7 linked regions of the Homo sapiens genome follow. The protein of the gene in region 2 interacts with the protein of the main gene of each other region in a pairwise test. Each region holds a gene or a part of one and is shown on either strand. Other genes may lie near its edges.

Region 1 (3,500 bases), on a different chromosome or scaffold from region 2:
ACCCTCTGTCTCAATGCTTGCTGCCGACATTTTTTTCATTAAATTGTTCTGTTTTCCAGCTGGGCAAGATGGCTCACACTTGTAATCCCAGCACTGTGGGAGGCCGAAGGTGGGAGGATCACTTAAGCCCAAGAGTTCCAGACCAGCCTGGGCAACATGGTGAGGCTTCAACTCTATATTAAACAATAATAATAATAATAATAGTAAAAATCTGGCCGGGTGCGGTGGCTCACACCTGTAATCCCAGCACTTTGGGAGGCTGTGGCGTGTGGATCACGAGGTCAGGAGACGGAGACCATCCTGGCTAACATGGTGAAACTCCGTCTCTACTAAAAAAATACAAAAAATTAGCCGGGTGTGGTGGCGGGCGCCTGTAGTCCCAGCTACTAGGGAGGCTGAGGCAGGAGAATGGCGTGAACCTGGGAGGCGGAGCTTGCAGTGAGCCAAGATCACACCATTGCACTCCAGCCTGGGCGACAGAGCGAGACTCCGTCTCAAAAAAAAAAAAATAGTAAAAATTTAAAAAGTTCTATTTTCCTACTGTAATTCTTTATTCTTTCTTTTCTTTTTTTTTTTTTTTGAGACGGAGTCTCGCTCTGTCGCCCAGGCTGGAGTGCAGTGGCATGATCTCGGCTCACTGCAAGCTCCGCCTCCCAGGTTCACGCCATTCTCCTGCCTCAGCCTCCCAAGTAGCTGGGACTACAGGCGCCCGCCAGCACACCCAGCTAATTTTTGTATTTTTAGTAGAGATGGGGTTTCACTGTGTTAGCCAGGATGGTCTCGATCTCCTGACCTTATGATCCGCCCGCCTCAGCCTCCCAAAGTGCTGGGATTACAGGCGTGAGCCACCGCGCCTGGCCTCCTACTGTAATTCTTATGAAGAATAGCTTGGTATAACAACGTAATCTTTCTTTGATAATCAAGAACCTTGCAGCTCTCAGGGCCATCCTCTGTAGTTCTTAAGCCACAGTATATACCACAATACAGAACAACTAGCATTTGGTTATCACTTCACCCACTGTTGGATCCATAGGACCCTGCAAGGATCTCCGTCACCAGCCCCACTTCCAGGCACCCAGGCCTGCCTATTTCCCTCTCAATCCCCCACTCCCAGGGCCCTGGGTAAGGGCTTCTCGTGGCTCCTTGGACCAGCGACAGCAGAAGCATTCTCCCAGCCACCATTTCTGTGACTTCCGAACCACTGCACACATGCCACTTTAGAAAGAGAAATCACTCCACGTGAGAATATGTACACAAATGTTCACAGCAGCTTTATTTTTAATAGTGCCAAACTAGAAACAACCCAAACCTGTCCTTCAATGGGTAAATGGTTAAACTAACTGCTGTATACCCATACCATGGAATACCACTCAGCAACTGCTGAAACATACCACAACTTGGGTGGATCTCAGGGGCAGGATAGTCAACGAAAAAAGCCAATCTCAAAAAGTCACATCCTGTATAACTCCATGCATATAACATTCCTGAAAAGACAAAAGTATAGAGATGCAGACTAGATTAGTACTTGCCAGCAGTTATGAATGGTGGGGAAAAGGGGCTGCTGTGGCTGTAAGGGGGTGGGACAAGGAGATATCTGGGATGATGACATAGTTTTGAATCTTGATTGTGGTAGTGGTTATAGGAATTTTCACACGATAAAAAATGACAATGAACTCTATACACCTTGCTCCGATGCCCAATGTCCTGGTTTAGACATTTTACTACAGTTGTGTAAATATGTAACCGTGGGAGAAAGCTGGGGGAAGGGTACTGGGACCTCTCTGTGCCATTTGTGCAACTTCCTGTGAATCTATAATTATTTCAAAATATGGAAAGAAAAAAGAGAGATTTGTTGAAAGTGTGCAGTGATCACACCATTCTCCCATTTGAACTCCTTCAACAGTGACTGACTGCCTGGAGAATAAGATTCAGTTCCCTAGCACAGCACAGGAGATGGCAGTCCTCTGGCCCAATCTTAGGCAACATCAAACCACCTGGGATCAGCGGACACACCCAGCTACTGCACACCTTCAGGCCTCTGCCTAAGCTGTTCCATCTGCTTGAAATGACTTCCCTCCCCTTTTTGACCTGCTGGTCAACATTCACCCTCCTTCAAAAATCTAGTTCAAGCACTTGCTTCTCTTACATGTTTCCTCCTCCAGCCTTTCCCTTCAAACCATGCTGGGCATGCCCCCATTTTTGCCACCCTCCCAGTATTCGCTTTAGATTGCATTCCGAGTCTACTTACACTTCTACTCTGTAAGGGCAGAAAATGTGTCTGATTTATTTCTCAATCCTCTACTGATTACACAGTGGGTGCCCAAAAAATGTTTGTTAAAGACAAAGCTAAATGGGAGAAAAAATGCGGTAGGGCAGCTGGGAGCAGTGGTTAAGATCGGGACTTTGACTTCAGACTCCCAGTGGGTCTGCTATTTATCTGGGTGATGTGCAGCAAGCGATTGCACTCATCTGCAACACGGACGAGCAGAGAGCCTCAGGGTACCTCTAGATAAGAAGTGCACAGCCCACTTAGGAAGGCATCTTGATGCAGGAATGCACCCTAAATCTGACGAAGCCTCGTCTAGATCCAATTACTAACTTACAGAGATTACAGAGAAACACATTCAATTACACTGCAGAGATGCAATCAATCAAATACCAACTATGGAAATGCTAAGGAACAACTCGATTGCTTCAACAAATAAACTACCAAGAAAACAAAGAAATAGGAGGGGGATCTATGGATTAAGAGAAACTTAAAAGACGTATCATCCAATCAACAACGTATGGCCTTCTCTTGCTCTACTTTCAAACTATTAAGGAAACCTAAAATTCATGGGGCAGCTGGAAATTTGAATATTGACTAGTTATTTGATGATATTAAGCAATTATTACTTTTTCAACTTTAAAAGAGTCAGTACCTTTAGAGACCTACCGAAGTGTGAAGTATAACTACTGTACACCTCCTGAGCACCCTGAGGTTGTGCCCGTATGTTTTACAGATGAGTGCAATCGCTTCTGCACATCACCCAGATAAGCAGCAGACCCACTGGGAGTCTGACTCAAAGTCCTGATCTTACCCACTGCTCCGAGCTACCCTACCACATTTATTCTCCCATTTAGCTTTGTCTTTACCAAACATTTACTGGGCACCCACTGTGTAATTAGTATCCCAAAAAATAATGAATGAAATGACATGATATTTAGGATTTGCTTGAAAATAATTATGGGTGGTAAGGGTGCAAGTGGATACCATTAGAGATGAAACAAGATTGGTCAGGAGTTAATAACTGTTAAAGCAGGACACTATTCTGTTTATTTTGTATATGTTTGAAAGTTCCCATAATAAAAGTTAAAATAAAAAGAATGATGTTGAAACTGGTTCATACAATCAAGTACAAAGTATCAGGAATTAATTATTCTGAAGGAAAATTATGTAAAAATGGCACCTTCCTAACCAAGTGTGAGGTGTAACTACTGTATGTATGTAGACCAAAAAT
Region 2 (3,500 bases):
ACCCAATGGACAGTTCCATAGGCTCAATTCTGGAAGTCTGTGTAGGGAAAGATGGCATGGTCAGCTCACACTCCCATCTTTTATTCAAATATAAGATTTCATTACCACCTACGTTACTGTCTTCTTAGTATATGTGAGGTGACGTAATTAAAGAGAACGAGCAGAGACATATCCTAAAAGAAACGTAAAACATAACTTTTTACATTCTCTGGAATATTTCAATAATGTACACTTTGTCTACCTTCTCAGAACCCTAAATTAGTAGAATTCAAGAGCTAAGTCTCATTACATGTTTTTATTTAGCCCTGCTTGTGACTGCATTATTTAACTTATGAATCAGGGTTGAAGGATTGGTCTGACAATATGAAATACAGAAAACAGAAATTTAACTGACATTAATTACCATGAATTTCTTCTGGTCTCTTTTTCACTAATCTAGATACACTAACTGAATCATGCATTGGAAACATACATCTATGTCAATTATCTTAATAAACAGCATTGAGGCTCATGAAAGAAAATAACAAGCATTTTGTTCAGTTGAGTTTGGTGGCTTGGAGCAAACATAAAGGTTTTCAAGTCACAGTGTGTCTGACTGAGAACCAGCTCTTTACGCCATTCTCTGTCATTCTTACCTCTTTGTTACTAAATAAAATATTGTGATCTTTATTGCTATTTTAATTGGTTTGAGTATTCAATATATAGATGATAAGTATCTTTTCTTGTGGCATAAAGCTACTCTTCACTTTTAACATTACACTTAACCTTCTCTCAGGAGACACTATTTATGAGTTCTTCTGCTCAAACAAATCCTATTTGGAAAATTCTGAAATCTTTTATGTTAAGAGAAATGAAACTTCTCTACTTGTTAGACTGATTGCAGAGACTAACTTATTTTTAAAAGCTAGATCAAGAGAGAACTGGTTAAATAAATCACTGTATATCCATAAAAGGGAGTACTACAGAGAAGGATGCAGATCTATTCATAGTCACATGAGAAGAGGTTCAAAATATTTTTTATATGTAAAAGTAAGTTGCAGAACTCTATGTATAGTATAGTTCTACTTGGGTTGTGTAAGGATTGCATATACATGCACAGAAAATCTCTGGAAGGATATATAAGAAATAGTTAACAGTGGTTATTTGTGGCGAGTGGAATCAGGATACTTTACTTTCCACTTTATATTATTCTGTGCTATTGCAATGGTTTGCCATATGCAGAAATTACTGTTATAATTTTTTAGTAAAAAATTCAAAAATACTCATAGGAGTCTACCATGTAATTAACTCACTTCAATCACGTGCATATAAGAATTGCGTTCATGTACTGTCACTTTTACTCAGATGTTCCACTCTCTGCCTGAACTAGCTGTTTAAATTCTATTTGATAAATAAAGGTAGAAAGGGAGAAAGCAATTGCAGTTGATAGGTTTCAGCACTAGTACAAATGGCAGTACATTGCAAACCAAAGAGCCCCCCTGTTTTTGGAAGGAAATAACCACAATATTCATACGTTTGCAGTTTTCCAATCGACTATGTACTCGAATTCTTACCACAAACTTGATGTTTAACAGCTGCAAAGTACTACTCAGGAGGCTGAGGTGGGAGCGTCTCTTGAGCCCAGGAGTTCACAGCCAGCCTCAGCAACATGGCAAGACCTCATCTCAAAACAAAAACAAAAAAGTTGCAAAGTATTTTTCCATTCTCAACCAAGTTGAGAGGAGTATTTTAAGTAAACATCTGTCATAATTTTTTCAGGTACTAAGATTGAAAACAGAGACAAAATATTTTTAGATTATTAGAGGTTAAATAGTCAAGTATTCCCAAAATGTTTAAAGTATGTCTGTGAGTGTGCGTGTGTGTTAATGAATTAGATTGCTAGACTGCCTCATTTTCATTTTTACTCTAAATTCTTTCGTCACTAGGAATCTAGATATAGGTTTGTTTACAAATGAAAAAAGTTTTCAGAAAAGAAATCACAACTTTAGTTCTTGAATTGAGGATTAATATATTACCTAGGAACAATGTAGGACTGTTTGGGATTTGAGCCATATTAGCCTTCGTTCCCAGAAACCTTCTGAATATTACTACAAACACCTCTTGTATTAGCAGTTCTAGAAATACACCAAGAAATGCACCTAAGAATGTGTAAAGACTCACTTTGTTCAAGAAATATTGAAACAGAGAAAATGAATACAGCAGAGATTTACTTTTAAGACCCTGGAACACCATCTGCTGATATGAACAGAGAGAAATTTTCAAACTTGGCATTCTTATATCACAGCCAAACTTTCACAAAATCTCTTATTTTTCTCAAATTCTGACCTAGGGCATTTCATCCCACAATCATCACTTCTGCCCACCATTCAACCAGCATCTTGTCAAATCTGGCTGCAAGATTAAGTTTCCCGATTCGGAATTCAATATTGTAACCCTAAGGATATAAGATTCAAGCTGGAACATTCTGGATTTTTTTTTAATGGATAAAATTGTTTCGGCCCAAAGACCAGAGTTCGCCCTGACCATAATGATGAATCATCAGGACTGACACTAAGTGAAATGAGTTTGATGTTCTTGTTTTATTTGTGCCCATTAAGCAGCATTTTACATTTGTCCTAACTCTCAACCTTTTGGAGAAAAGGTTGAAAGAGGCTTGTTTTCTAGTATTATTTAAGACTTACAAAATTAACTAGCTGTGTCTGAAGCAAGTTTGGCGTGCCATAGTCCCTACTATTGTGTGTCCAGCTCCATTCTTGCCCATTCTGCCCTTCCAATTTGGAGGAAAAGAACTGAAGAATTAAGAAATATCTACTTTTCTCATATTTCCTCAGTATCAATTACGGCTTCTGGTATCCTTGCTTCTGTCTTGGTACAATATTTACCTTTTACTCTCAACAAAAACCTACTTCCTTTAAAAAAATCTGTATATGAATTCTGCACTGAAAACTAAGCTCCCTATAAATGTTGTGCTTTGTTCTTTTGAACAGGAATTTGCCTGAGTTCTGATCAATGCTAAAAACACCATTTAACAGGTATGTATTCTTTTAAAAATATACCTGTTTCTCTAAGTTTTTAGATGTTAGAGATAAATATTTTCTTCTAAAAATAGTTTTAAATTATTCATCAAAAATCAAAGTCATAAAATATGCAGGGTCAACATCATATTAAACTCCAGAAATAATAAGTACTATTTCACAGCATCGGAGCACTGGCTAACCTCTTGTAAAAACTCTAAAGATTTAAAGAAAAGTTTTCCTTAATATTGAAATTTGTGTACAGCACAAGCACTGTGAGGCCTTTTCTTAGACTTTGTTTTTTAATTCTAGTTTTCCTGTGCTAACGTATTATTTCACTGTATTTTTTGTGTGTGATTTGAATTGCTAGGTGAGATGAGGTAAGCTTACAAAATAACTTAGAAATATAAACTAAAGAAGCAAGTATATTGGTGAGTTTTCTGCTGCCTTTTTGCTTTGTTTTGCTCGAGGTCTTGTCTCTCTTTC
Region 3 (2,653 bases), on a different chromosome or scaffold from region 2:
GACCCTGGAAGAAAATTCTGAGGCTGTAAGTGGGGTGAGCAACCACAGTGTAATTAATCCCCCACTTAGATTGAATGGGTTTAGATTGGGCTTAGATTGAAGTTCCCTTTTAACTGATTGAGAGATGCTCTGCCAATAGCAAGTGAAATGTGTGTGTCTGCACATGAATATGCATGCAGAGTATATTAAAGAGGTCTGAATACTCCACGATGCCTGTAATTATGAAACATGTGATAAAGCACCACACTAATCCCCTCTCGAGCAAGAGTGTTGTTTTTTGTCCCAGACTGCGTCAATCCTGCATGCCATGAGCACTGCTTTTGCCTCCGCAGCACTTTTATGTTGACAAACCCAAGAGCAGGTGACCCTAGGGAGGCAGATGGCGTCACACTCAAGGGAATCCTTCCAGAAGCCTTCAAGCATAGCTCTGTGAGCAAAGGCCAGACAGACAAAGTGATATCCATCTCGACCCTATAGTGAGTTGAACAAGGTGGGCAAACTGGACGCTGCGCACAAAGCATTTATTTGAAGGAGGACAAGGGAGATTGCTCAAGCTACAGACTACTCAGATTAAAGCAGAAGGATCCTCTCCACTTCCAGGAAGCTTTTCAGCTCAAGCTGAATTAACCAGGGAATCCAGCAGGGACTGGAGCTCAGGAGAAAGCTCCTCAAGCAACTTCTTGGGTCAGCTGTTGAGGAAGGGTGTTTTCTTCATGAAAAAGAGGAAGTTTCTCCATCAGCTGAAAGGAAACACATAGGAGTCAGAAGCAATGGGTGAGGAAAATCGGTCATTCTATCACAATAGGATTACGAGAAAGGGGGCCATCTCATGAAAGAATCTGGCCTTTGGAACAAGATAGTTTTGGGTTTTAAATAATTACTCCATGGTTATTTGCTGTGAGACCTTGGGCCATGACTTAAGCTCTCTGAGGCTTTGTTTCCTGTCTCTAAAACACGGATCATGAGGTTGTCTTGGCAGGGTTTGGAGGATAAACAAAAATAATCAAGAGTCAGGTCTGCCTTGGCACTCACTAAATGAACGTAGCACATAGATTCTTAAGAAGTAACTCGGCCTAACTCACTGCTCTTGCTGTTTGTTTAAATTGACTTTGTGTGTTTATACAGATGCTCATAGGCATCTGAAAAAAAAATACTTTGTTAGGAACATCTGGCTTTTATAATCAACAAAAATCAATTCAATAAAAGACAGTTGGAGAGGAGCTGGATGACATATTTTCCATTTGAAAGCAGGGCGTGGTTAGGTCGCTTCCTTGAGGCTCTCCCGCCTTCTGAATAAAGAGAGGTTACACAGTTGGAGAGAGCAGGAGACCTGGGCTCCCATCCCAGTGCTGTCTCCGCCTCCTGTGTGATCATGCGCAAATCTTTTTCCATTCTGGGTCTTTGTGTTCTCTCTTGAATCAGGAGGGGTTGGATGATACAATCACTAAGCTGTCTCTATTCCTTATTCAACATATGTCAGACAAGGAGTCTTGGAGGGAAATAAGAAGGCATAGAACTATGATACAAAATAAGGGCCTGGGTTTCTGGAAAGAGTTGGCAAGGAAGCTAAGGCCCAAGGCTGATGTATATGCCTCTGGAATCCTTATCTATTAAAAAAAGAGTGAGTGCAAGTGTGTGTGTGTAATTATGGCAGACTAACTCAACTCCTAGTCCCAACCCCTTGCCTGCCTCCACTATGGAGTCTGGAAAAGCTAAAGAGTTGCTTTCTTAGCCTCCCTTGCAGATGGGTATGGCCAGTATAAGCAGGTTCTGGCCAATGAGATATAAGGGACAGTCCACTGCAAGCCTCAAAATGTCTTTCCTTCACTGATTAAAGGAGAGGATCATTCAAGAAAAAGCCTTTTGACTTTTCATTTTGTTCTGTACTAAGAAAAATTCTTCTGCCTTGGGATCCTGTTGACCTGTGACCTTACCCCCAACCCTGTGCTCTCTGAAACATGTGCTGTGTCCACTCAGGGTTAAATGGATTAAGGGCGGTGCAAGATGTGCTTTGTTAAACAGATGCTTGAAGGCAGCATGCTCGTTAAGAGTCATCACCACTCCCTAATCTCAAGTACCCAGGGACACAAACACTGCGGAAGGCCGCAGGGTCCTCTGCCTAGGAAAACCAGAGACCTTTGTTCACTTGTTTATCTGCTGACCTTCCCTCCACTATTGTCCTATGACCCTGCCAAATCCCCCTCTGCGAGAAACACCCAAGAATGATCAATAAAAAAAAAGAAAAAGCCTTTTTTTTTTTTTTTTTTTTTGCTGCTGCCTCTTCTCTCCCACTTCCGGCCAGGAATGAGGATGTGATGTTTGGATCTGTGGCTGGCATATGGTAACCATGGGGTGACAAAGATAAAGACAAAAAGCCAATGTTGTCATGGTATGTTAGAAAGATGAAAAGAGCTTGAGTCCTTAATGAAATCTTTGAGCAGCCTAGATCACCTGTTTCTGGGACTCTTAAATAAATGATTTACACATCTTTGCTACTCAGAGTGTAGTCTGTGGAGCAGCAGTATAGTCATCACTTGGGAGCTTGTTAGAAAGGAAGACTCTCAGACCCCACCCCAGACGTACTGAAGCAGAATCTGCATTTAAAAAAGATGCCCAGCTGGGGTGTCACGGCTCACACCTGTAACCCCAGCTA
Region 4 (3,500 bases), on a different chromosome or scaffold from region 2:
CAGTCATCATTGATTTGACAGAGGACTCGAATGAGCAGCCAGACAGTCTTGTGGACCACAATAAACTAAATTCTGAAGCCTCTCCCTCCAGGGAGGCAATAAATGGCCAGCGAGAAGACACTGGGGATCAGCAGGGGTTGTTGAAGGCCATTCAGAACGACAAGTTGGCATTTCCTGGAGAGACCCTTTCAGACATTCCTTGCAAAACAGAGGAGGAGGGTGTTGGCTGTGGAGGTGCAGGGAGGAGAGGCGACTCCCAGGAATGTTCGCCACGGAGCTGCCCGGAGCTGACGAGTGGCCCGAGAATGTGCCCCAGAAAGGAGCAGGACAGTTGGAGTGAAGCTGGGGGCATCCTGTTCAAAGGGAAGGTGCCTATGGTGGTCTTGCAGGACATCTTGGCTGTGAGACCACCGCAAATCAAGTCCCTTCCAGCCACACCCCAAGGCAAGAACATGACCCCTGAGAGTGAGGTGCTGGAATCTTTCCCCGAAGAAGACTCTGTACTCAGCCATTCGTCCCTGAGCTCTCCCTCTTCCACCAGCTCGCCCGAGGGGCCGCCTGCTCCCCCAAAGCAGCACAGCAGTACCAGTCCCTTCCCCACCTCCACGCCCCTCCGCAGAGTGAGTATCTCCCATGGAGTCCCTGCACATCAGTGCTCACGGATCTCAGAGCGCTGTCAGTCTCCACTGGGTCACCCAGGTGTTTTGTGGCAGAGTGAGCGGGGCCACGGGCTGGGTCCTGGGACTCGACGTGGAGTTCTTCCTGGTATCAAAACTCACAGTGTTCAGTTCTGCATTCGTTGTGATGCCCCTGGGACTTAATTCATCAACAGTGTACCTGGTGTACTGTGTGAATAACACCCTGCTGTTTTGCCTTCGTTGTTCACATCTAATCAGTGATAGCTTAGCCGTTTTAGGGAATTAGGATCTGAGCTGGTGCTGTAACCCCTCACTTCAGATTCGAGGTCCAGCTTTCTCTGTGCCCTTCCTGTCTAAGCATAGAAATGTAGGGACGGGGCTGCAAAGACACTGAGCACTGAAGTGGCAGTGAGACGGCAGGAAGCATGACTTGGGGAATTCTGTAGGGTCAGCACAGCCAGCCATCTTAAAAACCTTACCTGGGGCCAGGCACAGTGGCTCATGCCTGTCATCCCAGCACTTTGAGAGGCCGAGGTGGGAGGATCGCTTGAAGATCACTTCAAAACCAACCTGGGCAACATAGACACCATCTCTATGAAAAAAAATTACTTTTTTTTTTTTTTTTGACAGAGTCACTCTATCACCCAGGCTGGAGTTCAGTGGCGTGATCTCGGCTCACTGCAACCTCCACCTCCCAGGTTCAAGCGATTCTCCTGCCTCAGCATCCCTGATAGCTGGGATTACAGGTGCGCACCACCACACTTGGCTAATTTTTATATTTTTAGTAGAGACAGGGTTTCACTATCTTGGCCAGGCTGGTCTTGAATTTCTGACCTCAAGTAATCTGCCCGTCTTGGCCTCCCAAAGTGCTGGAATTATAGGCATGAGCCACTGCACCCAGCCCTGCAAAAAAATTTTTAAAAGTTATCCAGGCATGGTGGCACATGCCTGTAGTCCCAGCCACCTGGGAAACTGAGGCAGGAGGATCACTTGAGCTGAGGAGTTGGAGGCCGCAGCGAGCTATGATCACACTGCCGCGCTCCAGCCTGGGTGACAGAGCGAGACCCCATCTGGAACCATTTTTAAGGACCCCATAAGGGGGACTTTTGCATGGTCTGTCTCTGTTATTGATTTTTTATTAGCACAATGGTGTCCTTAAGGTCTTAGGGACCAAACTGATAAAATCAGTCACGAGTCCCACGGTGTTTAGTGGTGTCTTTTGATTTTATAATTTTTTACTTTTTATCTTAAGTATGTAGAACCAGAAGAGACAGTGCCTTTTTATGTTTTTGGTTTTGTAGCACTTTTGTTTGTTCATGTTGGGTCTTTATATGAGAGTAGTAGATCCTGAGATGGGTCATTTAATCTGTACCTGTAAGCAGGTACAGTAGACCACCTGGACCATAAACCACCAACCTTGTTCGCTTTCGGGATTTTGAGCTCTAAGGAACCATTTATTTATTTATTTTTGAGACAGAGTCTTGCTCTGTCACCCAGGCTGGAGTACAATGGCGCCATCTCAGCTCACTGCAACCTCCGCCTCTTGGGTTCAAGCAATTCTCCTGCCTCACCCTCTCAAGTAGCTGGGATTAGAGGCACCCGCCACCATGCCCAGCTAATTTTTGTATTTTTAGTAGAGACGGGGTTTTGCCATGATGGCCAGACTGATTTCAAACTCCTGACCTCAGGTAATCCACCCGCCTTGGCCTCCCAAGTTTCTGGGATTATAGGCGTGAGCCACTGTGCTTGGCCAAGAGCATTTATTTTTCTGAATGACTTCATTTCTTGTCTTTCACCTGAGAAGATGAAAAAGGAAAAAATGGCTTCCTCTTTAGGTTTATGAAATGTTGTAAAAATGGTGCAAATCTTTTTTTTTTTTTTTTTTTTTGAGACATGGTCTCACCCTGTCGCCCAGGCTGGAGGGCAATGGCATGGTCTCAGCCTACTGCAGCCTCCACCTTCTAGGTTCAAGCGATTTTCCTGCGTCAGCCTCTTGAGTAGCTGGGATTACAGGTGCCCACCACCACGCCTGGCTAATTTTTGTATCTTTTCAGTAGAGACGGGTTTCACCATGTTGGCCAGGCTGGCCTCAAACTTCTGACCTCAGGTGATCCGCTTGCCTCGGCCTCCCAAAGTGCTGGGATTACAGGCATGAGCCACCGCCCCAGTCTTCTACTTTGTTTTATATGTGCTGGTTTGTTATATAGGTAAACTCTTGTCGTGGGGGTTTGTTGTACAGATTATTTTATCACTCAGGTACTAAGCCTAGTACCCTCTTCTAAGTTACTAAATGTGCCAGACTGGCATGTACACATTTCAGCTTCTACCTAATCCACCACTCAATCTCCCAAAATCAGAGTTGAAGTCTCTCCCCATTGGGCATCCTGTAGTGTACATTCGATCACTTGAATTTCTTCCAGGCTGCTGCCGCTTTGCAAAATTTCGTCCTGTGATGTGAGCCATTTAGCAAGAACGGGACACATGGCTGGGCGCGGTGGCTCACACCTGCAATCCCAGCACTTTGGGACGCCGAGGCGGGTGGATCACCTAAGGTCGAGAGTTCAAGACCAGGCTGACCATTATGGAGAAACCCCGTCTCTACTAAAAATACAGAAAATTAGCTGGGTATGGTGACGCTTGCCTGTAATCCCAGCTACGCCGGAGGCTGAGGCGGGAGAACCGCTTGAACCCAGGAGGCAGAGGTTGCGGTGGCCTGAGATCGTGCCATTGCACTCCAGCCTGGGTAACAAGAACAAAACTCCGTCTCAAGAAAAAAAAAAAGGACAGGACACAAGCACATGTTTCCATTAAGTTTGTTTCCATGTCCACAGCTTAGTCTGCAAACTGGGAAGTCCCCTCGTT
Region 5 (3,500 bases), on a different chromosome or scaffold from region 2:
CACATTACTTCAGTCCAGTAGTTTAAGACCAGCCTGGGCAACATAGTGAGACTCTGTCTCCAAAAAAATAAAAAAAACTATCTGGGTGTGGTGGTGCATGCCTGTAGTCCCAGCTACGTGGGAAGCTGAGGTGATACAAACACTTGAGCCCAGGAGGTTGAGGCTGCAGCGAGCTATGATCACACCACTGCACTACAGCCTGGGTGACACAGCAAGACCCCATCTCAAAAAAAATATAAAAGTGATAATATTAATGAAAAGGGATGAAAAGATCACATTCTGAGACTTTTAAATTTTTCTTTGTACAAAGATAATGTACAACTGCAAGTGTGCACACACAAATGCCAACATATAGCACTTGCCTATTTTCTTCCAGGATTTCAATTAAACTCTTCTGCAGAAAATGAAGCACTGAAACAAAAAGAATATGACAAATAAGAATTTAAAACTGTGAAGCTCAATTTCAATAAAATAAAATATTTTATATCACTGTTATCCAAAATGATATCATGATATGGAAACAAAAATTTAAAAGGAAGGGTCATGATGTACCTAAGTTATCTACAATGCTCTACCTATTACCAAGAAACTTAAAAGAGCCAGTTCCAAAATGACTCATACAAGCCATCAACTCATGGAACAAAATAAAATAATAGGACTTACCATTTTTAAGCAGATTATTAACACTTGCTCTACCTGTAGAGGAAAAAATGAACACTGGTAAGGAGTTTCACGACCAAAATCAATGTCATTTAAAAACTATGATGTGATGAGAGGGGTTAGCCAGAAAAAGGACTAGAAAAGTGCAGCCTTACCCAAGTTAAAGTTCTCCATACAGGAAGAAATATTGTCAGTAACTTTCCTGTAAGAGTATAAGTCAGTAGTATTCAATTCTTCCTGAAGACGAGAAGTAAAACGGTGCATAGCCTCAGGTAGAAAAAAATCAGGCAGGCTATTTAGTGAGCTAGAAAAAGAAACAAATATTAAAAATCTGACAATCTAATAGCCCCAGAATATGTGGAGAGGGAAGAGAATCATACAAATGTGGGAATACTGAACTAAATCTTCAAAATACAGCCAGAAAACTACAACTACACACTACCATCACTCGAATTTCCTGGCTTGTCAGCACATCTGGTCTCCCTGCTTCCACCTTGCTTCTCTCCCATCTCCCAGATTATTCTCAACAGAACAGGCAGAGTGACACCGTTAAAACACCATGTCACTTCTCTTACTAAAACCTCCAACAATATCCTTCTCGGTTAAAGTACTAGTTGAAGTGTTTACAGTGACCTACAAGGTCCTCCCGATACAATCTGGCACTACCATTAGCTCCTGACCTCATCTTTATTTATTTTTTTTCTTTTCTTGATTTTTAAAATGGCATCTATCACAATCCTGACCTCATCTTGATCTTTGTTCACTTAGCTCTAGCTACATGGCCTTGCTCTGTTCTGACATACCAGTCTTTGCTTCTGCTGTTTCCTCCATCCAAAATACTCTTCCTTCAAATATACCCAGCAATCACTGCCTCATCCCTTTCAGGTCAATCTCAATTACCTTATCATGTCTGAGCAAAGCTATATGAAGTGACCATAATATTTTAAATTGTAACCCTCACCCCATCCTTTATGTCCCCTTTCCTTCCTTCCCGCTTTTAGATAGCACTCATGCCATCTAATATCCTATAAATGTTACTTATTTATTTTGTCTATTTTCTATCTTCCCCTTAGAATGTAACCTCCATTCTGGACTGTTTCATTCATTCTACCCCCAGTTCCTAGAAGAGTGCTGAAACACAGTAGGCAGTCAATAAAAATTTATCAAATGAGTAAATTAAACATATCAATTTTGCCTCAATTTATATACATCAAAACTGATTGGCTTTGTTTTAAATATAACTGGACAGTTCAAAGTTTTTCTGGAAGAAAATAATTCAAAAATGGGAATATTCAGAATAAGAAGAGTCACTAGAGGGATGACTTAACACTGACATATAATTAAAACACTTTATCAAACTATAGTAAATAAAAGTGTGGTGTTGGTGTATGAATAATTGGACCTAACTCAGAAATCAAACCCATGTATATATGTGAACATATAACACAATAAGGTGGCATTCCAAATATGTGGGCAAAGATGGACGATTCAACAGTTTGGGTAAGTGGTTCCCCATATAAAAAAGAAAACTAAATTGAATCCCTACCTCACACTACATTCAAAGCTTAATTCCAGATGGACATAAAAGTTGAGCAAAAAAAAAAAAAATAGTATAAGGCCTGCAAATAATGTTTTAAATAATCTTGTATTACAGAAAGCACATATAGCAAGGTATAAAACTCAGAAATCTACATACACAAAAATTAGCTGAATTGATAACCAAAATAATATTTTAATTTTTGTAAAGACAAGACACCATGAGAAAGTTAAAGACAAGTAACAAAGGAATGTATTTGGCATATGATCTATAGAGAAGTCTTATAAATCAAGAAAACATTCTAACAAGAAAATGTACAAAGAATATGTAATAAAAAAAGTCAAATTCCACACATTAAAAAATGTTCAATTACACTAGTAATCTGGGATACACAAATTATAATGATAGCATTTTCCTTCATTAGATTTTAAAAGATTTAAAGATTGATAGTATCCAATGTTGGAAATATATGAAGAAGAAACAAGCATTCTAATTCAATGGGTAGTCTGGGGGAGTACAATTTAACAATATCTACCAAGAATTTCAATAGGCCTAATTTTTGGTCCAGAAATTCCACTTCTTGGAATTTATCTCAGAGAAATACACATATATAATTATATACATAAGAATATCACTGCAATGGGGAAGTGATTAAATTACTTTATACCATGTAATATAAATCATGTAATATGTACCATATATAGATACATACATGTCATATATATGGTACATTTAAATTTTGGTATATTCATATTACAGAATATTTATAGCTGAAAAAGTAAGGACTGCTGGTGGGAATGTAAAATGTTGCATATGGAAAACAGTATGACAGTTGCTCAAAAAATTACAAATAGTATTACCATATGGTCCAGCAATCCCACTTCTGGGTATATATCCAAAGAACTGAAAGCAGGATCTCAAATAGATATTTGCACACCCATGTTCATAGCAGCATTATTCACAACAGGCAAGCAGTGGAAGCAACCCAAATGTCCATTGAAAGATGCATGGATGAAAAAAATGCAGTATATGCATACAACAGAATATTAAGCCTTATAAGAGAAGAAAATCCTGTCATATGCTATAACAGGGATGAACCTTAAGGACATTATGTTAAGTGAAATAAGTCAGTCACAAAAATATAAATACAAATATTACACTAATATGAGGTATCTAAAGTAATCAAATTTATGAACGGAAAGTGGCTGCCAAGGGCTGAGCAGGAAATGGAGAGTTGTTACTTAATGTATACAGTTTCAGAGCTTAGCAGATGACAAGGTTCTAGAGATCATTGCACTGCAAT
Region 6 (4,228 bases), on a different chromosome or scaffold from region 2:
TATTCAGGAAAAAATAGCTTGACATACATAGAGGAGTATAACATATTCATTCATGGGGAACACAACAGTGTAAAAATGTAAACTCAGCTTAAATTATTTACAATTTAGTGCCTTACCTGTAGTCGCCGACATTACAAGCAAATTTGGGCTGCTGTGCTCTGCTTCCCAAATCAACCCTGTAAATTTATAGAATGGAAACAGAAAGTAAAAAACCAGTATTAGCAAGAAAATCTACACAACAAAACAGGGCCAGTCCAGGGTGAGACTGAAGACCTTGTTGAGCTGGTACTTGTGTGTGACACTTGCCGTGTCGGTTAGAGGGGGTTAGCGGCAGGGATGTTGGGGAGGTTTGTAGCCTGCCTAGACGGCAGATAACAGAATGGGTAGAATAAAAGTTTTAAAATTTCCACTTCACTTCATTGCACAATCTGAGGCAGCTCCTGAAAACACGATGCCAAGAGCCCTAGGTAATAGCAGGACACCAGGAAAATTGGGTTTGTTAAGGCAGCATGGCTCCAGAGTTCTGCTAATAACAACCTGAAACCAACATAGTGGGAGAGGAATTACGTTTAAAAAAAAATTCCTTCAACAGAACACAAAGACTGGAATAGAAGTAGATTAGGATAGTAAGAGTGAACGATGCATACTAAGGGTAGGTGTTAGTTCGTAGAAATAAATATATATATCGCTACCTACATATATACTTGGAAGATATGTAAACCGTATTTCTTCAATTCAGTGAATAAATCATTTAGGACCAAAGGTTTGCCAAGTGTAGCTCTGGCTGGAGAGGAGCTCCCGTGGGAAAGTGTCTGTCTTCTTCCAGAGGTCAATACGATCGTGGGAGCTCCCGCCCTGCAGGGAGCTCCTGGCCTGGGACCCGCAGCCATTCTCTACAAGGGGTGCAGCTGTGCAAATGCACAGACGTTACAGAAACAGAGTATCTCCTGCCAATCACTTCATCCAACAGCCAGGAGTGAGGAAGAGGACCCTCTTGAGTGAGGACTGAGGGTCCACCCTCCCCCACGTAGTGGGACCACAGAATCCAGCTCAGTCCCTCTTGTCAGCCCTGGTAAACTTAGGCAATAATGTCACCCCGACCACACCCCTCCCCCAGTGCCACTTCAGGGGGACTCAGAGTCAGAGACTTGGTCTGAGGGGAGCAGACACAATCGGCAGAGGATGGCGGTCCAGGCTCAGCCTGGCATCCAAGTCAGGACCTTGAGGGATGACCAAAGGCCCCTCCCACCCCCAACTCCCCCAACCCCACCAGGATCTACAGCCTCAGGATCCCCGTCCCTATCCCTACCCCTACCCCCAACACCATCTTCATGCTTACCTCCACCTCCATCTGGATCCCCATCCAGGAAGAATCCAGTTCCACCCCTGCTGTGAACCCAGGGAAGTCACGGGGCCGGATGTGACGCCACTGACTTGCGCGTTGGAGGTCAGAGAACAGCGAGATTCTCGCCCTGAGCAACGGCCTGACGTCGGTGGAGGGAAGCAGGCGCAGGCTCCGTGAGGAGGCAAGGTAAGATGCCGAGGGAGGACTGAGGCGGGCCTCACCCCAGACAGAGGGCCCCCAATAATCCAGCGCTGCCTCTGCTGCCGGGCCTGGACCACCCTGCAGGGGAAGACTTCTCAGGCTGAGTCGCCACCACCTCACCCCGCCACCCCCCGCCGCTTTAACCGCAGGGAACTCTGGTGTAAGAGCTTTGTGTGACCAGGGCAGGGCTGGTTAGAAGTGCTCAGGGCCCAGACTCAGCCAGGAATCAAGGTCAGGACCCCAAGAGGGGACTGAGGGTAACCCCCCGCACCCCCACCACCATTCCCATCCCCCAACACCAACCCCACCCCCATCCCCCAACACCAAACCCACCACCATCGCTCAAACATCAACGGGACCCCCAAACCCCGATTCCCATCCCCACCCATCCTGGCAGAATCGGAGCTTTGCCCCTGCAATCAACCCACGGAAGCTCCGGGAATGGCGGCCAAGCACGCGGATCCTGACGTTCACATCTGTGGCTCAGGGAGGGAAGGGGGTCGGTATCGTGAGTACGGCCTTTGGGAAGCAGAGGATGGGCCCAAGCCCCTCCTGGAAGATAATGGAGTCCGGAGGGCTCCCAGCATGCCAGGACAGGGGCCCAAAGTACCCCTGTCTCAAACTGAGCCACCTTTTCATTCGGCCGCGGGAATCCTAGGGATACAGACCCACTTCAGCAGGGAGTTGGAGCCCAGCCCTGCGAGGAGTCAAGGGGAGGAAGAAGAGGGAGGACTGAGGGGACCTTGGAGTCCAGATCAGTGGCAACCTTGGGCTGGGGGATCCTGGGCACAGTGGCCTAATGTGCCCCATGCTCATTGCGACTTCAGGGTGACAGATTTGCGGGCTGTGGTCTGAGGAGTGGCACTTCAGGTCAGCAGAGGGAGGAATCCCAGGATCTGCCGGACCCAAGGTGTGCCCCCTTCATGAGGACTGGGGATACCCCCGGCCCAGAAAGAAGGGATGCCACAGAGTCTGGCTGTCCCTTATTCTTAGCTCTAAGGGAACCCGATCAGAGATAGCTCCAATTGGCAATGTCATTTGTACCACAGGCAAGAGGTTGGGGAACCCTCAGGGAGATAAGGTGTTGGTGTAAAGAGGAGCTGTCTGCTCATTTCAGGGGGTTGGGGGTTGAGGAAGGGCAGTCCCTGGCAGGAGTAAAGATGAGTAACCCACAGGAGGCCATCAGAAGCCTCACCCTAGAACCAAAGGGGTCAGCCCTGGACAACCTACCTGGGAGTGACAGGATGTGGCTCCTCCTCACTTCTGTTTCCAGATCTCAGGGAGTTGAGGACCTTTTCTTCAGAGGGTGACTCAGGTCAACACAGGGGCCCCCATGTAGTCGACAGACACAGTGGTCCTAAGATCTACCAAGCATCCAGGTGAGAAGCCTGAGGTAGGATTGAGGGTACCCCTGGGCCAGAACGCTGACAGAGGGCCCCACAGAAATCTGCCCTGCCCCTGCTATTCCCTCAGAGAGCCTGGGCAAGGCTACCTGCTGAGGTCCCTCCATTATCCTGGGATCTTTGATGTCAGGGAAAGGGAGGCCTTGGTCTGAAGGGGCTGCACTCAGGTCAGTAGAGGGAGGCTCTCAGGCCCTAGCAGGAGTAGTGGTGAGGACCAAGCAGGCTCGTCACCCAGGACACCTGGACTCCAATGAATTTGGACATCTCTCATTGTCCTTTGTGGGAGGATCTGGTTATGTATGGCCAGATGTTGGTCCCCTCATGTCCTTCTGTACCGTATCAGGGATGTGAATTCTTGCCATGAGAGTTTCTTTGGCCAGCAAAAGGGCGGTATTAGGCCCTGCAAGGAGAAAGGTGAGGGCCCTGAGTGAGCACAGAAGGGACCCTCCACCCCAGTAGAGTGGGGACCTCACAGAGTCTGGCCGACCCTCCTGACAATTTTGGGAATCTGTGGCTGTACTTGCAGTCTGCACCCTGAGGCCCATGGATTCCTCTCCCAGGAATCAGGAGTTCCAAGAACAAGGCAGTGAGGCCTTGGTCTGAGGCAGTGTCCTGAGGTCACAGAGCAGAGGGGGTGCAGACAGTGCCAACACTGAAGGTTTGCCTTGAATGCACACCAAGGGCCGCACCGGCCCCAGAACACATGGGACTCCAGAGCGCCTGGCCTCACCCTCCCTACTGTCATTCCTTCAGCCTCAGCATGTGCTGGCCGGCTGTACCCTGAGGCGCCCTCTCACTTGTTCCTTCAGGTTCTGAGGAGACAGGCCCCGGAGCAGCACTAGCTCCTGCCCACACTCCTACCTGCTGCCCTGACCAGAGTCATCATGCCACTTGAGCAGAGGAGTCAGCACTGCAAGCCTGAGGAAGGCCTTGAGGCCCAAGGAGAGGCCCTGGGCTTGGTGGGTGCGCAGGCTCCTGCTACTGAGGAGCAGGAGACTGCCTCCTCCTCCTCTACTCTAGTGGAAGTCACCCTGCGGGAGGTGCCTGCTGCCGAGTCACCAAGTCCTCCCCACAGTCCTCAGGGAGCCTCCACCCTCCCCACTACCATCAACTATACTCTCTGGAGTCAATCCGATGAGGGCTCCAGCAACGAAGAACAGGAAGGGCCAAGCACCTTTCCTGACCTGGAGACGAGCTTCCAAGTAGCACTCAGTAGGAAGATGGCTGAGTTGGTTCATTTTCTGCTCCTCAAGTATCGAGCCAGGGAGCCATTCACAAA
Region 7 (4,048 bases), on a different chromosome or scaffold from region 2:
GGGATTACAGGCGGGAGCCACCGCGCTCGGCCTGGCAAATTTTCTTGCTGTGCTTTAAATTTTCTCCCTAGTCCTATTTTTTTCCTTTCTTCAGGAAATATGGTCTCTGTTCTGAATCCTTATCACAAGAAGCTCTTAAGGAGTAATGACTCCTCCCTCTTTGGTCAAACTAGGTTCTCTCCCTTCACTCAGATTTAATTTTTTTGGTCACACTTCCCCACCTTTTGATAGTTACAGTCAAACGACATGTAATACTTACTCTCCCAATCAGCCCTTGGCGAGTAGCAGGTCTTGTAGGTACAAGTAGTCTCTGCACAGTACACTCGGGCCCACCAAGTGAAGGTCTGATTACTTCTCACTCCTCAGCTTATCTAACCAAGCAACACTGGAACCCTCAGACCACAGCGTTCAAGTTGTCGCACAAAGGACATTATTCACGTAGTAAGTACTGGGGCCATTTTTTTTTCAGTCTGAAGTGTGATATCCCCCAAAACATTTCCTAACCAAGGCATGCTAGGCCAGGATAAATCGTGCCTGCACATATAAAACAGAAGGGTACAGTGGCTGCTCCAGTTTGGAGCACCCAGGTCCTCCTATAAGAAAATATGGTTTACATTCCCAAATTAGTCATTATTAATGGGAAGGGAGAACCAATAAGTGCATGTGAGAGTTGAGAGAAGACCAGTTGGGAAACTTTCAGATGTTTACTTTTGCCTTCTGACAGTCGATCAGCATCCATCTTTCACTCACATCCTGTAAAACCGAGTTTTGTTAAAGCAGCGTCCTGTTTCTAGAGTCTAGGATAGCGGGATTTAGTGAAGAGTCTAGGATAGCGGGATTTAGGGAACGGGTCTTCTCCACCTTGCCCAACTTGTGGCTTTTTGGGGTATCTCGCAGAGTTATAAATATCTAGAGTTCTCCCTAGTTTTTCTGATAGCCACAGCATCTGAGGACCCTGTCTTTCCCCGTCTTGAGGTTCGAGTTTCCTCACCTTGGTCAGTTTTCCCGTCTCTGGCTAGGCTCCGAAAATAGACTGTGCAGAGCGTGGCGTCTCTCCGTTGCTAGGGTAACAACTTTGTTTTGTTCCCGCCCCCCACCTGCCAACCTCCGGGTTCCCGCTTGACTTTTCTGGCCAATCATAGAAGAGTCTCATCTGAGACTGCACTGGAATCGACCAATCCGAGCGCGTCCAGGTCAGGGTCACTGGTCGCCCTTTCTAGTTAACCAGGTCGACCCCTTTTAAGCCTCAGTCTCGGTTAGCTTCACTTCAGCGGGAACCTGCCCACTAAGGAGGCCGATTCTTTCCGGCTCGAGCAGGTCCGGACCCGCCCCTCTGGCGTCTAGCAGTCTCGGAGGCCTGCCCGTATAGTTCAGGGCCGGACAGCGAGCGGCGGCGACTTGCCAGTAAGGTAAGTTTGTGGGGTTTTCGTTTGTCCCGTTCGTCAGCAGGCTTCGCTCTCTTTTGCGCTTTTCCCGCGCGTGAATTCCCGATCTGAGGACTCGAACTCCAGCCGATCTGGAGAGACGGGGGCAGAAGGGTAGGGTCAGTGGGCCGGGGGTAGAGAAGGTTTTGCTACAGTCCTCCACGCCCCCAGCCTTTCACGTCTCCCCCACGCGACAGAAACACGTGTTGTGCTTCTGTCTTGGCTTGTCGCGGGCGATAGTGTGTTTGTATGTGTGCAGGTGGGATCGCGCTTTTTATTCTCCTCTGTAGGCAAGGCTTCCGGGCCCCAAGTCCCCGGGGGAGCACCTGGTCAACTGCCACCCGGTTCCTGTGGGGCACTGGCTTGAGCTACGTGTCGTTCCCACTCTAAGGAACATCGCGACTCCGGGAGCTCTGCTTTTCCCGCCTCGGAGTGGAGAAAAGCAGGCGCGCCGCTCGCTTGCCACTGCTAGGGAATCTGGTTGTCTTAAGTTCACTTAGAGATAGAGTTGTTACCCTAGTTTCCCATAAATTCCGTGGCTTGGTTTTAAACAAAGGGGCGGCGGGGGGATGGCGTAATAAATATTTGGAGTATTCAGGACTGATTAGCCATGATCAATAGTAGGACCCCACAGAAGGTTTTAATGAATGGTTACTTTTGGTTATTCAGGTATTGGAATTTGATTATGAATGAACTAAACTGCTTCCCTTCTTTCTATATACCATGCATTTCTTAACGACCATCCCATCTGGCATAAGAGATAGTGAAGTTTGATTAATTTGTCCCTTCTACTTGTTCTTATCTACAGTAAACAAAAAATGGGGGTAGAATAAGGTTATTGGCTAAAGTAACGTTATTGGCCTTTTGGCCAAATTACCAATACCTTAATTCCGCTTATTACTGTGAATGATCAGAGTTTAGCTGTCTTGCATTTTGCTAATTCACTAGATACTTGTGGAGCTTAAATTATAGATATTATGCCATCTCCTTCTTCTTGCTTTTTTGTTTTTATTCTGCCTCACTGTGCATTATTCTAAGTCTGTAATGCTCAGCCGGTGTTTTTCAGACCTTTTGACTGTGACCGACAGTAAGAAATAAATTTTATATTGTGACCTAGTACACATGTAGACAATATATAACCGACAACTGTTTTTACAGAAACAACACTTAACACTTACTACTTGCAATATACTCTGATAATTTCCATTACATTTTAAAAAATGTACACCACAACACCCTAATGATTTGTCCCTAGACCTTTAGTTTTCAAACTTGTGTGTGCACTTTATTTAAAATTTATTTAAATAAATAATTTATTTAAAATTTATTTAAATAAATAATTTATTTAAAATTTATTTAAATAATTTATTTAAAATTTATTTAAATAATTTATTTAAAATTTATTTAAATAAATAATTTATTTAAAATTTATTTAAATAATTTATTTAAAATTTATTTAAATAATTTATTTAAAATTTATTTAAATAATTTATTTAAAATTTATTTAAATAATTTATTTAAAATTTATTTAAATAAATAATTTATTTAAAATTTATTTAAATAAATAATTTATTTAAAATGCAGATTGCCCTGGCTCCCTCCAGAAATTGGTTCTGTGGTCTAGTGGGACCCAGGAAGATATACAATATAGCATATATGAAATACTTGGTACAGTGTCAAGTGCACAGGTGTTCAGTGAATATTAGTTTTCTTCTTGGGGAACAAATGTTATTTATCTTTAGGGATATAATCAACTCTTCAAGGTTTCATCTGTCCCTGGCAAGGTGGCGTCCAATACTAAGAACTGTTTTCCCCAGGTAGAGGAAGTAGCGGGGTGGGGGATGGGTCCAGGATCTGAGATTAATCTTTAAGCAGTTGGCTTCCCTGAACAATGTCGGAAATACAGAAGCTTAGAGGTTGAGGAACATAAGGATTAGAGAGGTTCTGTGACTTTCCCAGGATTGTGCTGTCAGTAAGTGGATCTCCGAGACTAGAAGTCACTTCCTTATTCTAATATTCTTGTCCATTCTGCCTTGATAGCAGCCGCAATCTGGAGGCAGTGGTTGAAGCAGAAAGAGAGCTTCCCTAACTTGCCTATCCCAAAGGAGAGACAACTGAATTTGACTCCTAGTTCGGTTTTAAAGTAATGAAACTTCTAACCTGCACATTGTGCACATGTACCCTAAAACTTAAAGTATAATAATAAAAAAAAAGAATAATGGTGAAATAAAGGTTTTTTTAAAGGGAAAAAAAATAATGAAACCTGAGAGATCTAAAATATTTTTTAAAATACACCCAAAGGTTTCTGTGGATTTATAGCTATGAAAAATGGATATAGTTTAGCTAATTCTTTTATATAGAGTATTTTAAAACACTGGTTAAATAATTTATTAATGCAACATTGAAAGAAATTAAAGATGAAAAATCTCACTCAATTCTGCTACCATAATATAACTGATAATTCTGTTCCCCTCCTATCTTTATCCACATGTACCCATGTTTTTACATGATTGTGATCCTTTTTCATATACTTTTTTGTTATTTTTATTTAATACTGTTTTGGAAATTTTTTTCTGTGTTGTGATGATCTTTATATTTTGCATTATTAACAGCAACCTAATATT

What was found.
Region 1: the proteins of POU6F2 (region 2) and MAPK9 interact in binary tests that used the Homo sapiens proteins (3 or more experiments, as listed by UniProt).
Region 3: the proteins of POU6F2 (region 2) and BFSP2 interact in binary tests that used the Homo sapiens proteins (3 or more experiments, as listed by UniProt).
Region 4: the proteins of POU6F2 (region 2) and CHAF1A interact in binary tests that used the Homo sapiens proteins (3 or more experiments, as listed by UniProt).
Region 5: the proteins of POU6F2 (region 2) and THADA interact in binary tests that used the Homo sapiens proteins (3 or more experiments, as listed by UniProt).
Region 6: the proteins of POU6F2 (region 2) and MAGEA12 interact in binary tests that used the Homo sapiens proteins (3 or more experiments, as listed by UniProt).
Region 7: the proteins of POU6F2 (region 2) and NUP62CL interact in binary tests that used the Homo sapiens proteins (3 or more experiments, as listed by UniProt).

Annotation. Positions count from the first base shown.
Region 1 is NC_000005.10:180,285,584-180,289,083, forward strand, and holds part of MAPK9 (mitogen-activated protein kinase 9), read right to left. Parts: intron 1,485-3,500; exon of another isoform or gene 1,392-1,484; intron 1-1,391. UniProt on the Homo sapiens protein: Serine/threonine-protein kinase involved in various processes such as cell proliferation, differentiation, migration, transformation and programmed cell death.
Region 2 is NC_000007.14:38,984,409-38,987,908, reverse strand, and holds part of POU6F2 (POU domain, class 6, transcription factor 2), read right to left. Parts: intron 3,033-3,500; exon of another isoform or gene 2,988-3,032; intron 1-2,987. UniProt on the Homo sapiens protein: Probable transcription factor likely to be involved in early steps in the differentiation of amacrine and ganglion cells. Recognizes and binds to the DNA sequence 5'-ATGCAAAT-3'. Isoform 1 does not bind DNA.
Region 3 is NC_000003.12:133,473,056-133,475,708, reverse strand, and holds the end of BFSP2 (phakinin), read right to left. Parts: intron 741-2,653; coding exon 737-740; 3' UTR 501-736; downstream 1-500.
Region 4 is NC_000019.10:4,409,140-4,412,639, forward strand, and holds part of CHAF1A (chromatin assembly factor 1 subunit A), read left to right. Parts: coding exon 1-620; intron 621-1,365; exon of another isoform or gene 1,366-1,384; intron 1,385-3,500. UniProt on the Homo sapiens protein: Acts as a component of the histone chaperone complex chromatin assembly factor 1 (CAF-1), which assembles histone octamers onto DNA during replication and repair.
Region 5 is NC_000002.12:43,586,039-43,589,538, forward strand, and holds part of THADA (tRNA (32-2'-O)-methyltransferase regulator THADA), read right to left. Parts: intron 965-3,500; coding exon 816-964; intron 697-815; coding exon 664-696; intron 412-663; coding exon 363-411; intron 1-362. UniProt on the Homo sapiens protein: Together with methyltransferase FTSJ1, methylates the 2'-O-ribose of nucleotides at position 32 of the anticodon loop of substrate tRNAs.
Region 6 is NC_000023.11:152,732,329-152,736,556, forward strand, and holds the start of MAGEA12 (melanoma-associated antigen 12), read left to right. Parts: upstream 1-1,428; 5' UTR 1,429-1,531; intron 1,532-1,533; exon of another isoform or gene 1,534-1,706; intron 1,707-2,819; 5' UTR 2,820-2,925; intron 2,926-3,758; 5' UTR 3,759-3,833; coding exon 3,834-4,228. Other genes in the region: CSAG1 (chondrosarcoma-associated gene 1 protein), read right to left, coding at 117-132. UniProt on the Homo sapiens protein: Not known, though may play a role tumor transformation or progression. In vitro promotes cell viability in melanoma cell lines.
Region 7 is NC_000023.11:107,203,634-107,207,681, reverse strand, and holds the start of NUP62CL (nucleoporin-62 C-terminal-like protein), read left to right. Parts: upstream 1-1,248; 5' UTR 1,249-1,409; intron 1,410-4,048.